2 separate regions of the Homo sapiens genome follow, and region 1 is linked to region 2. Evidence: fine-mapped expression QTL. A gene starts in region 2. The other region holds a variant in brackets. All regions are shown on one strand. Distances are from middle to middle.

Region 1 (5,357 bases), 28 kb before region 2:
CTTGGGAGGCAGAGGTTGCAGTGAGCCAAGATCATGCCATTGTACCCCAGCCTGGGTGACAGAGTGAGACTCTGTCTCAAAAACAACAAAAAAAATTTTATGGACACTGAAATTTGAGTTTCACATAATTTTCACATGTCACAAAATACTAACCTTCTTTTGATTTTCAACTATTCAAAAATGTAAAAACCAGCCCGGCACAGTGGCTGAAGCCTGTAATCCCAGCACTTTGAGAGGCCAAGGTGGGCGGATCACCTGAGGTCAGGAGTTTTAGACCAGCCTGGCCAACATGGCAAAACCCCGTCTCTACTAAAAATACAAAAATTAGCCGGGTGTGGGGGCAGGTACCTGTAATCCCAGCTACTTGGGAAGGCTGAGGCCGGAGAATCACTTGAACCTGGGAGGCGGAGGTTGCAGTGAGCCAAGATCATGCTACTGCGCTCCAGCCAGGACGACAGAGTGAGACTCCTCTCAAAAAAAGTAAAAACTATTCATAGCTTCAGGGCCTTGAGAAGCCAGATTTGCCAACCCTGATACAAATGACTGAAGGCTGTGCTGCCATTTCCTGTGCTGTAAGACAGTATTTAATATAGTGCCATGGAAATTTTTTTATTTTTATTTTATTTATTTTTTTTGAGATGGAGTCTCCCTCTTGCTCAGGCTGGAGTGCAGTGGTGCGATCTCAGCTCACTGCAACCTCCACCTCCTGGGTTCGTGCCATTCTCCTGCCTCAGCCTCCTGCGTCGTGGAAATATTCTTCATAATATAGTTGAGTGAAAATGACACGTTAAGTCGCTGGGCGCGGTGGCTCACACCTGCAATCCCGGCACTTTGGGAGGCCAAGGAGGGTGGATCACCTGAGGTCAGGAGTTCGAGATCAGCCTGACCAACATGGTGAAACCCCTTCTCTACTAAAAATACAAAAATTAGCCGGGCATGGTAATGCTCCTGTAATCCCAGCTACTCAGGAGGCTGAGGCAGGAGAAGTGCTTGAACTTGGGAGGCGGAGGTTGCAGTGAGCCAAGGTCACGCCACTGTAGTCCAGCCTGGGTGGCAGAGACAGACTCCATCTCAAAAATAAATAAATAAATAATACAAAATTAGCCAGGATGTGTGTGCACGCCTGTAGTCCCAGCTACTCAGGAGGCTGAGGTGAGAGGATCACCTGAGCCCAGGGATTCAAGGCTGCAGTGAGTCGTGATCACTAGTGCACTCCAGTATGGGCGACAGAGAATATCCTGTCTCTTTAAAAACAAAACAAAACAAAAAAAAATTAGGGCCGGGCGTGCTGGCTCATGCCTGGAATCCCAGCACTTGGGGAGGCCGAGATGGGTGGATCACCTGAGGTCAGGAGTTCGGGACCAGCCTGGCCAACATGAGGAAATCCCATCTCTACTAAAAATACAAAATTAGCCGGGTGTGGTGGCACACGGTTGTAATCCCAGCTACTCAAGAGGCTGAGGCAGGAGAATCACTTGAACTCGGGAGGCGGAGGTTGCAGTGAGCCAAGATCCCACCATTGCACTCCAGCCTGGGCGACAGAGCAAGACTCCGTCTCAAAAAATAAAAATAAAAAATAAGTTGGGAATCACCCCACTGCCCCTGAAAGTGGGATTTCAGTGGCACGTCCCATTCTCTTTAGACCATGCTCGACAGCTGACCAAGGCCATGATGCGAAAGGCCACGGCCAGCCGCCTGGTCACGCAGCGCGATGCGGACGTGCAGAACTTCGTCAGCTTCATCTCCAAAGACTCCATCCAGAAGTCCCTGCAGATGTACTTAGAGAGGCTCAAAGAAGAAAAAGGCTAACGATTGGGCTGCCACAGGCTTACGGCCACACGTGCCCCTGTGGGTCCCAGGGAGGTCTTAAACAAGGTATTTTTCAACTTAAAAGTACTGCCAGCGTTTCATTTTGCTGATGTTACGTAGAAGTTCCTGTTCCTCATAGCCCAGTGGCCCAAGGCCCAGCCACACACAAACACACATGGGTGCCTGTGCCCGTCAGGCAAGGGGAGTTGGAGGGCAGCCTTTTGACTTGGGATTGTGACTGGCAGGGGATGCCATTCTGGACCTGGTGAGGTTGCCACGGAGTGTCTCTGTTCCCAAGGCAGAATCGTAAGTCAAGTCCCTGGTCATCCATTCTGGCCTTTGGACTGCCTGCTCTTAGGTGTAAGGCCAGGTGGTCTTGGCCCCCATGACCCACACAGAACTCCCCAGGGAAAAGCCCTTTGGTCACTGCCCTTACTCATCAGGATGAAGAGCGCACAGTGAATCAGAGCAACTGGGGGATCCTGAGCCAGCGGGAGTGGGACTCTGGAGGCAGCTGTGCTGCC[A/C]GGGATCCAAATGTCCCTTAAGAAGGATTTTGCAAGAACCAAACTCATCCAAACCCTTGAAACAAAGGTTTTTCCTCCCATGCGATTCAGACCAAGTTACCACATCTTGCTAAGATGTGATGTTTCAAAAACCAGAAACCTCATCGGGCCCCAGTCAGTGACCCAGTGGACCCGTGGGCCTGCCTTTTCCCTATCCTAATGTGTCCTTGCCCAGGCACAGGGCAGCAGCCTTGAAGGGCTGAGCCACGGCGAGCTGGGCGGTTCTTTGCACGGGACCTTAGTCCCAAGCCACCTGCCTGGGCAGGGAGGAGTCCAGCCCGCCCACTGCTCTCAGGCTCTCCAAAAGCTCCAGGGCTGCTGACTAGCTGGGGCTGGCCTCCCCTTGCAGTGCTGGGTAAGACCGGGCTCTTGAGACAGACAAGTGCCTGGGGGCCCCTGCAGGGCCCTGGAATGGGGGCTGCGGGGTGGGCCTGGGGAGAGCTGTTCTGAGAGCCCCGAGGGCCCAGGAGGCTGGTGTGTTGGCGCCATCCCTGTCCCAGCTGTGCTCACAGTACAGGCTCCTGGGAGTGTTTGTAGTTTCCACAGAGGATGAGCAAGGAGCATCCCTGAGCTGCCTTCTGGGGCCAGCAGGCTCCGGGGGCAGCCACGTCCCACCAGGACATGGGGTGGGCAGCCCAGGCCATGGCTGCCCCTAAGGAGCTGAGGCTGGGTCCTAAGGAAGGACAGAGGCCTGGGAGCCAAGCTGTGGGGCCCGACCGGGAGCAGCTCATTTATTGAGCAGACATCTGCCGGGCAGTGCCCCCTGCACCCCTCATGGGGCTCACAACACCCCATGAGGTCGCTGGATGCAGCCCGTCCCACAGATGGGGAACGGAGGTACAGAGCAGCACATCACGTGTCCATGGCCCCTGGTCCACGCCCAGCCGACTCTGCCTTGGGGCCTCACTGAAGGGTGGCTGCCACCCTGAAGGGGCCACTGTTGGGCCATTCCTCAGAGCCAGGGTCTGCAGGTGGCATGCCCCAGCCAGGCCTCGAGTCATCGGTGGAACTTGAGGGTCACCTCCACTGGAAAGTGGTCGCTGATGGCAAGAGCCTGTGGGGACAGAGTGAGCCTCAGGGGAAAAGTGCACCCCACCCACAGGGATGGGAGGGGCCGGTGAGGCCTGGGTGCCCACCCCTGCTGCTGCCTGCGGTGGGGCAGGGGCAGGGGCCGGGGCAGAGGGTGTCACCACTGGCCCTTTGAGGGAAAGGCAAGGTACCCTGCCTGCCCAGAGCTCCACATGGGGTGGGCCGGGCTCTCCAGGGTCCTTGGAAACGAGCCCTGGTGCAGGGAGGAAGCTGAGGTGGCCCTGCCTTGGGCGCTGGACCCTCCCTGCTGCCTGCGTGCGCCCGGGCGGTGGGGACCCAAGACCAGCACCGCCCCACGGCCCACTCGCCTGAGTCTGGTCCAGGCCGAATTCCTCCTGGAAGTCGTGCACGGTGGCCGACTGGGGCTTCAGGCTCCGGCGCAGGCGGGCGCCACAGGCCACAATGCGGTCGTAGGCGCAGTCTGAGTTGCCCACCGTGGTGTCGGCGCTGTCAGGGATGAGCCACTTGAAGACCTCACTGCTCCTCAGACGGATGGCGGCCCAGTCCTGCGCCCGCACATAGCTGCAGTCGGCGTTGAAGTCGCCCAGGAACAGCATGTCCTGCGGGCGCCGCGGAGCCGTGTCTGAGCCGCCGCAGGAGCCGTCGAGGTCCCGCCCTCATGAACCAGACCCCCGGGGCGCGCCTGCAGGGACCCCGGGACCGAGGGGTGGGCTTACGTCGGTGCCCCACTTGTCGATCACGTCCAGGTACACGTCGTAGAGCGCGTCGATCTCCGCCACGGCTTGATGCGGCGCCGCGTGCAGCGGGATCAGCACCAGGTTCTGTGCTGCTGCGGGAAGGGGTGGGGGCGTCAGAGCTCGGCGGGAGGGGAGGGGCGGGGCCCGCTCACCGGTGCCGGGGGCCGAGAACTTGACCACGAAGGGCTCGCGGCTGAAGACGTCCTCGGGGTCTGGGTACAGGTAGGTGTCCACGACCGACACCGCGTCTTTCCTAGGAGATGGGGAGGACCCGCTGAGCCCCCGACCTGCGGCCCCGCGCGCCCCTCCCTGCGGCCCGCCCCTCACCTGTACACGAACAGGTACATCTCCTTGTACTGGTCCCGGCCCAGGGGCTGGCTGCTCACAAAGCTGTACTCGTGCTCGGACACGCTGCGGAGACAGGGGCCCGCTCAGGGTCGGGGCGCCGCGCCGGGGCGAGATCCCGGCGGGGGGTCGCGACGAGGGGCCCTGCCCACCACACCTGTTGATCTGCTCCATGAGCGCGGACACGGCGCTGAGGTCTGGGTCTCGCACCTCCTGCACCAGCGCGAGGTCATAGCCAGCCAGGATCTGGGGAGGAGCGGCGGGTGCGGGGGTCAGCGCGGTCAGCACCCCTAAACGCCGCCCCGCCCCGGCCCGGGCCCCACCTTCGCGATGATGCTGCCGCAAGCGGGGTCCGACACTTTGCTGTCACCGAAGCTCTGAATGTTGAAGGCTCCGATGCGAAGCGCGGCGGTCCCGGCGGCTTCCAGCGCCCAGAGTGCGGCCAGCAGAGCCCGGGGCCCGCCCATGGCGCGGAGCGAGAGGCTGGGAGGGACAGACGCTGCCGCCTACGCAGACCCGCTGTCAGACCCACCGACCCACCCCTTCCCTCCGCGGCCGCCCCTTGACGGCCAGTGCGACGCGGAATCCGCCCCTGCGTTCTGCAGGCTCCCAGGGCACTGCTGGGCTCTCAGGGACCGCTGCCTTCTCACTGCGCGGGAAGCTGCAGCCGGAATGGAGGGTCCGGCCCATCCAGCCCCAGCTCAGGGCAGCCGAGAGACTCACCTTGGATGTGGGTGCAGAGGCCCGAGGCTCAGAGATCCTAGGGGGATGGGGATCCCGGGTCCAGGCTGCGGGCGTGTCCGACACAGGACTGCACTGACTCCCTCTGGCAGTAGCTCTGGCACCAAGGCAG
Region 2 (5,357 bases):
TGGGCCTTGGGTGGGGTTGGCAGGGGCAGGCTCTGCACCTGTCCGGGATTCAGGTAACCAGGGCCTGCCGATGGGACTGAGGCGGGTCTAGGGGTGTGTGTCCTGTATTTTATTGAAAAACTCATTCAGGGATCCAGCCCCTCAGGGGGCAGAGGGACTGATTATTCTGACTGTTGGGAGAGGCTTGCATGGACCAGAGCCCCATCAGTATGACTGAAAGTCCAGCGGAGCCTTCTGTGTCCCTGTGCCTCCCAGCAGGGTGGGAGTGGAGGAGGCGGCTGCTCCCAGGTGGCATCTCCCTGCCCTTGGGTGCAAAGTGCTGCCCTCACCACTCTCCCACCTCCCTTACTTCCTTGAAAACCACTCTGATGTCACAACTGAGTGTCTGTTCCGTTTCAGATACCCAGGGCTGCTGCCCAGTTCTGTAAACGCAGCCCAGCTAAAGCTCTGCTGTCTCAAGTGTGCATTTATACCCAGGTGATTTGGACGGAGCAGCTACCATGGCGTGGACGCCTTCACTGAACTCCGGGCTGCAGTGCAGGGAGCTCAGAGCAGTGCTGCTACCAGTTTTTAACTTTGAACAACTGTGTCAGGCAATGGATTTGAATTTTAAGTGTATTAATAGCTGTGCTCTGTGTCGTAGGCAAAATTCCACTGAAGGAGCCTCTGTGCCCTGCAGCCGGCAGCGCGGCTGAAGCATGTGTTGGCCAAGGAATGCCTGTCATCCAGGTGCCCTGCAGCCAGCAGCGCGGCTCAAGCATGTGTTGGCCAAGGAATGCCTGTCAGTCATCCAGGGCTCTGGGAGGGGACGAGAGTTATGTCCCCAAGAACAGGAAGTCCTTTACAAAGCATCCAGTCTCTTCCTGTCCTCCCCTTCCCTAGGCTGGGGTAGGGGTTAGAGACTGGTGGCCCAGGAGGTCACCTGCCTTGCCCTGGATTCCCTCTTCAGTGGCCAGCAGGACTTGGCAGGGCCACCAGCTCGCCAAGGTTCTGGGCGGGGCTCCAGCCTCTCCTGCCTGCTCCTTGGCTCTGCTGACCTTTCACAGGCCTGACAGCAGACTCAGCAGGGCCATCCCGGGATGCTGCACCTTCTGGCTGGCTCCCTACCAGCGCCTTTCCCTGTACCTGGCAGCTTCTCTCTTGGCCCCACAGTCACAGCACTCCACTTGGTCACAAAGACTTCAGAGCAATAAGAGGCGTCCTGAGCCTTCAGCACCTCCCAGGCCTGGGATATCGGGTTCAGAGGGTGCTGCAGAGCAGCATGAGGGTGGCTCCACCCATGAGGCTGGTGACACTGACGCTGGCTTGGCTAAGTTGGCTCAAGCCGGGTCTGGCCTGACAGGGTGCAGTCACACCAGGAGCGCATGGCAGATGCAGCCTCAGTGATGCCTCTCTTGCCGGGTAGGGGCTGGGAGTCCCCGTGCATCCTGTCTCTGGCCCATGAGGGGCTGCAGCACTGTGGGCGCCAGAGCACAGATTAAACTCTCAAACCCACACTGGCTCAGGTGTCCTTGCTCTCACCTTGCATTGGCCCGGGTGATGCCGTCTCACCACGGGTGGGAGGACTCAAAGTAGATGGGTAACTGGGGTTCCAACTCCAGAGCTGGAATGCCAACTGCCCACTCCCAGCCTGGTTCAGAGGAAGATGTTTTGAAGAATGAGGGAAAGCCAGGCACAAAGGGAAGCCAGGGAAGCAAAGGGCCCTGGAGTGAAGCTGGTGGGCTGCCGTGTCAGAGCGCCCAGGGCAGGGAGCAGAGCTCAGAAGTAATGCTGGCCCGGGCGCAGTGGCTCACACCCGTAATCCCAACGCTTTGGAAGGCTGAGGCAGGTGGATTACTTGAGATCAGGAGTTCAAGACCAGCCTGGCCAAAATGGTGAAAACCCATCTCTACTAAAAATACAAAAATTAGCGGGACTTGGTGGCATGTATCTGTAATCCCAGCTACTAGGGAGGCTGAGGCATGAGAATTGTGTGAACCCGGGAGGCAGAGGTTGCAGTGAGCTGAGATCACGCCACTGCACTCCAGCCTGGGGGACACAGCGAGACTCCGTCTCAAAAAAAAAAAAGTTGGGCTAGGCGGGCCCCCGAGGCTGGCCTGACTGTCCCAGGGGCACAGGCTCCAGCAGGCTGCCTGTCTGTGGTCCAGGCTTCAGGAACCCCCGGTCTTGGGTGTGCGGGGGCTGGGAAGTGGCTGGGGGTGCACAGTCCCACACCTGTCATTCACTGAACAGGCACGTATTGACAGCTTGTGGCGTGTCAGGCCCTGTGCCCAACTCTGGGAGTCAAGGATAACCTGACAGACTCAGGCCACTTTAGGAAAACGAAATCCACCCCAACCACACTTAGCGAGTCACCCTGGCCGGGCCTGGGCTGCCCTCCAGTCGGTCAGCCGGACTGGATTTCCACGCGGCCGAGCCCTACGCCTCCCAGACCCTGAGCTCCAGTCTGCACAGGCCAGGTGTCTGGAGCCGGGCCTGGTGACAGGCATCCCCCAGGTGGGAGGAGGGGCTGTCCTGGCTCTGACCTGGATATCAGATCCAGAGCTGAGGGGGAGGCGCAGGGTCAGGAGGGGAGGGGTTCTGTTCTGAGTTTCCCCTGGCCAAGGCTGCAGACAAGGGACGCAGACAATCGGCACATTGTGAGCAGGGGCTGCAGGATGGAACCAGCAAGCTGCTGTGCTGAGCGCCCCAAACCTGGGCCTACAGGGGTGAGTGCCTCCCGTTACTCCTGCAGCAAGGACCCAGGGGGTGCCCCAGGCCACCCAGCCCCTCCCTTCCCCAGCCCACTTGCTCCCTGATGTCTAACCCTCATGACCCTTCTGACCCTGATGCACGCCCAGGTGAAGACCAAGCCCTCCTGCGGGGGCTGGAGAGCCGTGAGCCTGCTCCTGCTGCTGCTGCTGCTGGTGCTGGCCGCTGTGGGGGTTGTGGCTGGAGGGCTTCTTGGCTCTGCTCAGGGCCCTCCCAAGGTGAGCCCCTCCTCAGCACCAGGGACATGGACAGTGGAAAGGGAGAAGGGAAGCTGGCATATCCCAGCCTCCAGCAGAGCAAGGGTGCGGAGCAGGCAGTGACACCACCTAGGAGCAGACAGCCAGAGGACCAAGGGGTGGAAGGGCCCACTCAGGGGTGTCAGGAGTCCTGCAGCCCAGAGCTGGAGGCTGTGCTGGGGTTGCACAGCTGCCCGGCTGAACTCCAACTCCCACTGCCAGCCAAGGCTGCAGACGCTGCGAATGACCCTCCCGAGCCCCCACATGCCCCGGCCCAACCAAACCATCCTGGTGGACGTGGCCCGGAACGCGGCGACCATCACAGTGACCCCACCTCAGAGCAACCACAGCTGGGCGGTGCTGTTCGACGGGCAGAGCGTGAGTGGGCAGGGAGGGGTCACCCTGGCAGGTGTCGGTCTGGGGGGCCCCGCCTCACCCCCCTGCCTCCCCAGGGCTGCATCTGTTACCGCCCTGAGGAGCACCAGGTCTGCTTCCTCCGCCTGATGGAGGACAGTGATCGGGAGACCCTGCGGCTGCTGGTGGATACCTCCAAGGTGAGCCGTCCTGCTGGGCGCAGGCCCGGGCCAGGGGCTAGACAAAGGGTCCTGTGTGCAGCCCAGTACGGGACAGGCTGGAGCTGTGGTTTCAGGGAACAGGAAGCTCTCTCCGCCCTAAGCCCAGGCTGCTGACAAGAGCTGAGGGTGGGGACATCACTGGGGGTTGGAGGGTACCCGGCCCTGCCAAGCCAGGAGCAGGGAGCAGCCCTGTCCCACCGCCCACCAGAGCCTTCTCAACAGGTCCAAGAGGCTTGGGTCCCCAGCCAGGACACCCACCACACCCAGGAGCTGCTGGCAGTGCAGGGGAGCCTCGAAGTGGACCCCGCCCAGGCGGGGGCTTTGGTGCAGCGCCTGTGCATGAGGACCCCCATCTACTGGGCCCGGCGAGCAGAGGGTGAGTCAGGACCGCTGTGGGGGAAGGCCAGGCCCTCGGGATGGTTTGAGGAGCTGGGGGCGGAGCCCTTGGAGATTCACGGCACCCTCGCCACAGGGCCCCGGAGACAGCGGCTGATTTATCTCTGCATCGACATCTGCTTCCCGAGCAACATCTGCGTGTCGGTCTGCTTTTATTACCTCCCAGACTGAGCCCCCGACCTGGCCCAGCCTGGCCCGTCCCCAATCCAGTGGGCTGGCCAGGCCACCTGCACCAGGGAGGACAGCTGCTGGCAGGGACTAATAAACCCTTCCACCTGGCCATGGTGGTGGTGTTCTCTATGGACCGAGGCCCTGAAACGCGGGCAGGGAGGGGCAGAGAACACACTAGCTTGGGGGTGGGCACCAGCCTCAGACCCCTCAGCAGCTTTGGGCCCTCGGCCGACTTTCCCAGGCAGTGCAGGCTAGCCCAGTCCAGGAGTGTGCAGCCTGGCTTGGGTCGAGCTCTGTCACATCTGGATAAGCAACTGGGGGCTGAGAGTCCCAGGGCAGCCTGGCCCAGCAGGTCAAGGCGCCACAGGGGGCCATCAGGTCCAGCTGGCGCAGGCCGGCAGGGGAGGGTCTGCTCTGACCTGGGTGCTGCATGGGTCCCTCCAGCTGCCACCACCTGCACCAGGCAGTCCCGAGGGGTCACAGGCTAGCCCAGCACACTGTCATTGAAGGCCAGGCAGACAACAGCCTTCTGGTGGCCGCCATACTCTCTCTTGATCTCTCCAGTCTCCACACACCAGAGCCGGGCCAGGTTGTCCGAGGAAGCTGGAGGGGGAGATTGTGCAGGGCTAAGAGCGCAGGTGCAGGCCAAGCAGGCGGCCCCAGCAGAGGGGAAGCTGCAGCCGAGGTGGGCTGGCTCTGGAGGCCAGCGCCGGGGGCCAGGGATGGGGGAGGCCAGGGCGGGGCTCACCAGTGACGATGTACTGGGAGTCCCCCGAGAAGGCGCAGCCCCACATCCAGCCGCGGGAGGACTCCCCGGGGTTGCCGCTCTTGATGCTCAGCTCCGTCATCAGGGAGAAGTTGGACGTCCTCCAGATCTTGCACGTCTGATCAGCCGAGCAGGTGGCGAGGAGCCTAGTGGGTGGGCATGGGGCGTGTCCAGCAGCAGCCACTCCATCCAGCAGCCCCTCCCCTCTCCAGCCCCCAGCCCAGGCAGGTCCCCTCCCGGGCCAGCAGGCCCTGCACGCACGTGGAGTCGGGGCTGAAGCGACACTGCAGGGCGTAGCGCGTGTGGGCAGGGATCTTAGTCTTGGGGATGAGCTGGGTCACCTCGTCACCAATGCCCCCCGTCAGATTCCAGACATAGCAGTTTCCCTAGAGGTCAGGAGGACCGTCACGGAGGGCCCAAGGCCTCAGGTCTGAGACACAGGGAAGGATGCCCTGGGGGCCA

Evidence for each region. PIP is the estimated chance that this variant, and not a neighbour inherited with it, causes the effect.
Region 1: its variant is the best candidate, but not a certain one, in a credible set for the expression of BRICD5 in cerebellum (GTEx, PIP 0.60).

What each region holds. Positions count from the first base shown.
Region 1 is chr16:2,236,431-2,241,787 of GRCh38, reverse strand. It overlaps DNASE1L2 (deoxyribonuclease 1 like 2), which reads right to left and starts at 5,344. Exons shown (of 7, transcript NM_001374.3): 1 at 5,228-5,344; 2 at 4,828-5,010; 3 at 4,662-4,750; 4 at 4,487-4,570; 5 at 4,139-4,412; 6 at 3,770-4,021; 7 at 3,077-3,426. The coding sequence starts at 4,971. The coding sequence ends at 3,370. It overlaps ECI1 (enoyl-CoA delta isomerase 1), which reads left to right. Exons shown (of 7, transcript NM_001919.4): 7 at 1,643-2,386. The coding sequence ends at 1,809. ECI1-AS1 (ECI1 antisense RNA 1) reads right to left here and starts at 1,244. Exons shown (of 2, transcript NR_186393.1): 1 at 698-1,244; 2 at 1-153. The variant A/C (reference allele first, on the strand shown) is at 2,334.
Region 2 is chr16:2,208,134-2,213,490 of GRCh38, reverse strand. BRICD5 (BRICHOS domain containing 5) reads left to right here and starts at 2,628. Exons shown (of 6, transcript NM_182563.4): 1 at 2,628-2,708; 2 at 2,841-2,969; 3 at 3,210-3,365; 4 at 3,440-3,541; 5 at 3,785-3,938; 6 at 4,035-4,238. The coding sequence starts at 2,658. The coding sequence ends at 4,129. It overlaps MLST8 (MTOR associated protein MLST8), which reads right to left. Exons shown (of 9, transcript NM_022372.6): 7 at 5,157-5,281; 8 at 4,878-5,041; 9 at 4,038-4,732. The coding sequence ends at 4,614. PGP (phosphoglycolate phosphatase) reads left to right here. Exons shown (of 2, transcript NM_001042371.3): 2 at 1-1,898. RefSeq lists enhancers at 116-929, 749-1,043, 930-1,743 and a silencer at 3,183-3,373.